2 linked regions of the Homo sapiens genome follow. The protein of the gene in region 1 binds, or shares a complex with, the protein of each later gene. Each region holds a gene or a part of one and is shown on either strand. Other genes may lie near its edges. The genes, in order: ERCC5 and SEM1.

Region 1 (3,830 bases):
TGATGGGGATGCTCCACTATTGAAGAAACAGACTTTGGTAAGTGTCGTATAGTTTTTAGTAAGTGTCAAATAATTTTTTTCTTTCTGCATTCTTAGAAAAATTCACATAAAATTTTTGTTTTCTCTTTAGAATTTTAGAAACAGACTTATTTTGACACATACTTAATTACATCTACTTTTTTATCTTGAACAATTAATTTTTCTTTTAAAAAGTTTTATGAGAGTTCATCATGGGTACAATGATAAAATTTAACTTTTAAATAAAACTAACTACTAAAAACCTTGCTGTTGAGAGTTTTCCCTTCAGAGGATCTTGTTAGGTGTTTTATATTTATTTCAAGGATGCGGCCATCACTCAGAACACTGTGGAAACCCTCTTTTGGGAAGTGCCTCCCTGAATCTGAGATCAAGTATCCTCCGTGATAGCAAGCCTTCTTTTAAGGGGAATTGGATTTTAGGAGTAAGCAATGTTATGTGGTGCCAAGTGGTGACTAAAGTGGATTATCTAGGAAGGAAATTGACCATGATATAGAAGAGTCAGAATGAGTTGCTGCTTTATTGTTCTGGAAGTAGTTTTAAAAAATGTTTTTGGAAGGCCGGGGGCAGGAGGATTGCTTGAGCCCAAGTCCAGCCTGGGCAACACAGGGAGACCCCATCTCTAAAAAAATGACATAAAATAATGTTTAAACAGTCCAAATGACAGCACCCATTTGGATATATGACTTTTATTTGTTGAAAATACCAAAGTAATGAAATGATGACTTTGTAATCATACCAGATACTCTCTAAATGAGGATATAGGATAAAAGTAAGGATATAGGATAAAAATAAAAAGCATTTATAAATGCTGGGGGACCTTTGTTGCCTCAGTAAGAGTGTCTAGTCTTGAATGTTGCAGTTTTCAGTTACCCAAGGCATACTGTAAATCAGGTACTTTGTGGAAGGATTAGAAAGGAAAAGAGAATATCTTGGTTATTTTTATCCGATATTCAGCCATAAGCACAGGGACTATCCATTTGTCACTACTTGAACATTTCTTACAAGATATTTCTATACATTTTAGAATTTCTCATGATATATAATCTTGAATATTGAAGGGCAGAATTACATGTAAGTAATGCATGTTTATAAAAAGCAATATTAGAAATTGTTTTTGGTGTCACTGTGACATTTTATAGAATAAATAAATAATTTCTTTTGGGAAGCATTTAAGCTTTCCACTTCTTGGGCATATTAAAAGACATTTAAAAGAAACTGAAAGTAAATTAAGTTTCCCAAATATATTGTGTAGTAGCCCATTAAGTAATAGATGGAAACTCTGGGTGTCCTTTACGTAGCAGCAACCTGAAGATATACACTGATATGGCAATTAGGAGGAAATGCTAAAGCAGCCATAGTCTGAAAACTCAGACAAACCAAATTCTCTGGAAAATAAATCACAGCAATGTTTCTAGTGGTCTAATATCCTGAAGTGAGATCTTACATCCTTTCTTCTCATAGGTGAAGAGAAGGCAGAGAAAGGACTTAGCGTCCAGTGACTCCAGGAAAACGACAGAGAAGCTTCTGAAAACATTTTTGAAAAGACAAGCCATCAAAACTGCCTTCAGAAGCAAAAGGCAAGAGGAAAATTATAGTCGTGTTAGAGATGAAGTTTTAAAAAAGTGATTTTTGTCTTGATTTCCTGCGATTCTCTTTCCCTATCTAATTTTGACTCTCAACAGAAAATAGAGAGTGAAATGAGACAAGTAGGCTGCCATTTTGACCTGGTAATTTGGAGTTGTGGCAATTCTCCGTTCTGTGAGAATCAACTTTGCTAATGAGAAAAAAAAGCTGTCGTGTTGCGTCATGTACACTTTTTACTTTGATTATGGTCTTCTTGACTCTAGGTGAGCAGCCCCGCCAAGGTTCCTTCCTTTCTCTCGGCTGCATTTATTTTCCACAGCAGTGGCCTGAGAGCAGCCAGGTCAGGTCCCTGTTCACCATCCTGAGCAGGGTCTGCATAATCTGTTTAAAGATTTGTGTACTTTCCAGAGATGAAGCACTACCCAGTCTTACCCAAGTTCGAAGAGAAAACGACCTCTATGTTTTGCCTCCTTTACAAGAGGAAGAAAAACACAGGTAAATGTTTAACTATTTAAGAATATTATTTTAGTCATTGCTACATTCAGACACATTTAAACCTTGATGTGTTATCTACATGATAAGGCATGTGAACATTTCTTAATGCATCTGAAATAGGCATGCTCTATACCTTTCAGAATATTTTTCAAAGACTAAATTTTTTATTTACTATTCTTTGTGTTTTGGTGATTCATGATTCTTATTCCTCTTCATTCTAAAGAACTTCTGCCAGGGCTGTGGATTCTAAATTCTCCAAGGCATGAATTTTAGTTTTGCTTACACTTTGCTTACACATGCTGTCTCTAGCTGCTTTTCAATCCAGTATGGTCTCTCTCACCATGATGCTAAAATACCACAACCCATGACATTCTTGTTGCTAAATCTAGCAGACGCTTTGCACGTCTTAGTGTGCTCGACTTCTCTGCACTAAACACCATGCCACACTGCCCCGCTCCCCCGGCATCTCTCTGGCGCTTTCTGCTCAGCCTCTCTGTGGACTCCTCTTCCTCTGTCTCTCTCTTAATGGTTGGTGGTTTCTGTGTTTGAAGTGAAGGTGGAGAACCGGAAGCTTGGCAGTTTGCCTTTGTCCCCTGTCCTTCCCTCCACCTCTTCCTTTCCCAGGAGTTCCCAAGAGACAACTTAGCTTTTGTATCAGCTCAGTTCTATTTGTCTCCATTGCTACCACTGTCATTTTTTCTCCAGGTTACATTATTAGCTTTTAAACTTCTTTCTGTCTTTGTCTTTGATCATACCCTTTTTGTAATAGTTCCTCCCACCAAGCCCAATCTCTGTTTTGTGTTATAGTCTGTTTAAAATCCAAATCTGATATTGTCATTTCCTTACTTAAAACACTTTCTAGCTTCTCCTTCTCATTTTTTTCTTTCTTTTTTTTTTGAGATGGAGTCTCTGTTGCCCAGACTGGAGTGCAGTGGCACAATCTCAGCTCACTGCAACCCCTGCCTCCTGGGTTTAAGCGATTCTCCTGCCTCAGCCTCCGGAGTAGCTGGGATTACAGGCACGTGCCACCACACCTGGCTAATTTTTTGTATTTTTAGTAGAGACGAGGTTTCACCATGTTGTCCAGGCTGGTCTCGAACTCCTGACCTCAAGTGATCCACCTGCCTCGGCCTCCCAAAGTGCTGGGATTGCAGGCGTGAGCCACCACACGCAGCTTAGCTTCTCATTTCTTTAGGATAAAACTTTAACTCCTTAATTACACTTTCCAGTCTTATCCCTGCCTTTCTTCACATCATCCACAGGCAGGCTTTCTTTTCCTTGTTTCTATATGGTCATACAACTTAGTTCTTTTGCCTGGAACACTCTTCTCCATGAACCTTCCCGCTCCCTACAACTACACTCATTAATTCGTGGCTAACTCCAACCAGTGTAATTGCAGGAGATCCTGGAAAGCTTTTGTGACTCCTAAATTGGGTGAGGTGACTCCCTATTGCATCTCTAGTGACCTGCCCTTCCCTTGTGGTGGAAGTTATTAGATCCCACTCTAATTGCTTACTTACACGTGTCCCCCACCAGACCATGAGACCAGTAGTGGCACAGATCTTGCTGTTTTATTCACCACTGTAGCCCGTATAACGAGCAGAGCCTTGCATACAAGTATTTTTGTAAGGGGTCCTTAAAAATCATAGATATCGTAAAAGTATGTTTGACTTTCAGTTCAGAAGAGGAAGATGAAAAAGAATGGCAAGAAA
Region 2 (2,622 bases), on another chromosome or scaffold:
GCCTTAATGCAGTTATCTTACCTGTCTTAGTTTTCAATTTTGTCTTAATTATGTTGTTTTTCCTTTTATAGTTTTATGGACAAGATAAAAATGATAGCTATTGAACAATAATCCTGCTTTTTCTCTAAAATCTGTTAATGTTACATCATCTGTTCCAAGCATTGTACCTGCTCTTTCTCATTCTTCATGATCAGTATATGGCTCTTAGAAGCCCCTTCTGTTCTTTTTACAGATTTCAGTTTATTTCGAGGATCAGATTAATTCTATGTGTACAAGCTCATGCCCTTTCTTTTTATATCTGTCTTTGTTTTATGTCCTTCAAAAAATGAGCCACATTAGAGAACACCCTACTAGCTTTTGAAAAATATACATTCCCTTTTGTTCCGCCTTGGCATCATTATGCTATTAGACTATTTATTTTCAGGTCTTCCAAATGCTGTTGATCTCTACTCTGTGTTTTTAATCACGTGTCAGAGTTTTCTTCCTGATATGTTTTTGACATTTTGAAATTGAGGCTAAACAAGTTTTCTTCCTTTGACATTCAAAATAGTCAAATTTCTTTGAAGTTTTGTTTCTTTTATGTCTTTCATTAGCACTTTTCTCTTAAAACTGATTGATACATTGTTGAATACTATAATTTTTACCAAGAAACTTTCAGTAGTAAATGTATTGATAATTAGATTTCACATCATTACATGTTGCCTTTTTATTGCTTTAGAAATAGAACATTATATATTTGTGGCTTACTGTTTTTATAATACACCCCCACAGTGCCATTATGTACTCTTGTGTTTCTGCCTTTAGGTTTGTGGATTTCTATAGGTATATAAATCTATTTTTGTTGTTTTTTCACTGTTGTTGTTTTTTGCCTGAGGTATATAAATCTTGATGCCTCCATTAGTGAATAAGATTTTTCTTTTTATTTCCCCATTTGAGTCATGAGTTCTTTCTTCACTAAGATTGTTGCCACATTGCCAGTGGTGTCAAATAGAACTTGCTGTAGTGATGGAAATGTTTGAGAAGCTGCTGTATAGAAGCAATCAGTTACATTTGGCTACTAAGCACATGAAATGTGGCTAGCACAGCTAAGGGACTGAATTTTTTGTTTTATTCAATTAAAATAGCCACATATGACTACCATATTGAATAAAACAGCCTCGCACAATCCTTGCTTTAAAAAATTTGTCTTGATTAAAAGACTCACACAAAGTTATTCTTCCTAGTCTTTTCTGTAAAGTACATGGAAACCCTTAACATAATATCATAAGTCATGGTAAAGAATGGAGTTTACTGTTGTCTGATGTTATTTGGTCCTAATCCTATTTAACAGTGGAGAGGCATCTCAGACTCTAGTGTGAATCAGATTGCTGGGGTTCCAACCCCAGATCTGCCTCCTATTTAGCCATATGAACCTTGGGCAACTCACTTAGCCTTTCTGTGACCTACTTTTGTCACACATAAAACTCAGATGATAATTAGTGCTTTACTGCTAGAGTTATTATAACGTTTAAGTGATTTAACATGTGTAGAGTGCTTAGACTGTGGTGTGTGTGTGTTAAATAAAAACTGTCCATGTCGCAGGCCCCCCACTTTCCACATTCGTCTTTCTCTTTCCGTGTAATTACCTTTAACAGAAGTAGAAAGAATAAGGCCACTTTGTTCTTCCAGGTAACTCAAAGTCATTCTGATTTTGCAGCTTCTGATATCATTTGTTTATGTATTAAGAGAAATAGGTAGTAGTATGATTTTTCTCAACCCTATTTCACGTCTTACATAAAAACTCTAAGAAGCCAGTATAGGCCAGGCGCAGTGGCTCACACCTGTAACCCCAGCACTTTGGGAGGCCGAGGCCGGTGGATCACGAGGTCAGGAGATCGAGACCATCCTGGCTAACATGTTGAAACCCCGTCTCTACTAAAAATACAAAAAAATTAGCTGGGCCTGGTGGCGGGCGCCTGTAGTCCCAGCTACTAGGGAGGCTGAGGCAGGACAATGGCATAAACCTGGGAGGTGGAGCTTGCAGTGAGCCGAGATGGCACCACTGCACTCCAGCCTGGGCAACAGAGCGAGACTCCATCTCAACAACAACAAAAAAATCCAGTATAGTTCCTGATTTACCAAATCAGATATAGCCATTGTCATAAAGCTGAGTAGTTTCTTGGATAGTAAGAGGACTTTTCAAACCTACTAGTGGCCATTAGTCTTTTTTCTTGTTTTGTTGCACAAAGACTGCTGCTGTTTTCGTTTCAGATAGTGTATGTTCACTGTGTATGTCGTATGATATTAACAGTTGTGCTGAGGTTTTCTATTTTTGTCTTTGTTGATTTTTCCACTCAGCAGCCTCATGATTATTAGTGTTTTTGTTTTGTACTTGGTGGCCTCAATTTTTTTCTTTTGGTTTTTTAAATTCTAGCAAAGAATTTTTCATCTTTTCTAAGAATTTAGCTGATAGAAGAGCATTTCATCATCTTGTTTGTGATTGTAAACAATTTATACATGCAGTTAGTGACCAGCCACCTCCCATTAGGAAAGCCAATAGACACAAACCTGAAGGACAGATTTGGTATACTTGTTACTTAAATTGTAGGTTGAACTTTGGGGTTTTTTTGTTCATTGTTTTTG

The links.
Region 2: ERCC5 (region 1) and SEM1 share a complex: the UniProt entries of both Homo sapiens proteins name them as parts of the homologous recombination repair (HR) complex.

Annotation. Positions count from the first base shown.
Region 1 is NC_000013.11:102,852,257-102,856,086, forward strand, and holds part of ERCC5 (DNA excision repair protein ERCC-5), read left to right. Parts: coding exon 1-37; intron 38-1,500; coding exon 1,501-1,616; intron 1,617-2,031; coding exon 2,032-2,118; intron 2,119-3,795; coding exon 3,796-3,830. Other genes in the region: BIVM-ERCC5 protein, read left to right, coding at 1-37, 1,501-1,616, 2,032-2,118, 3,796-3,830. UniProt on the Homo sapiens protein: Single-stranded structure-specific DNA endonuclease involved in DNA excision repair. Makes the 3'incision in DNA nucleotide excision repair (NER).
Region 2 is NC_000007.14:96,690,247-96,692,868, reverse strand, and holds part of SEM1 (26S proteasome complex subunit SEM1), read left to right. Parts: intron 1-2,622. UniProt on the Homo sapiens protein: Component of the 26S proteasome, a multiprotein complex involved in the ATP-dependent degradation of ubiquitinated proteins.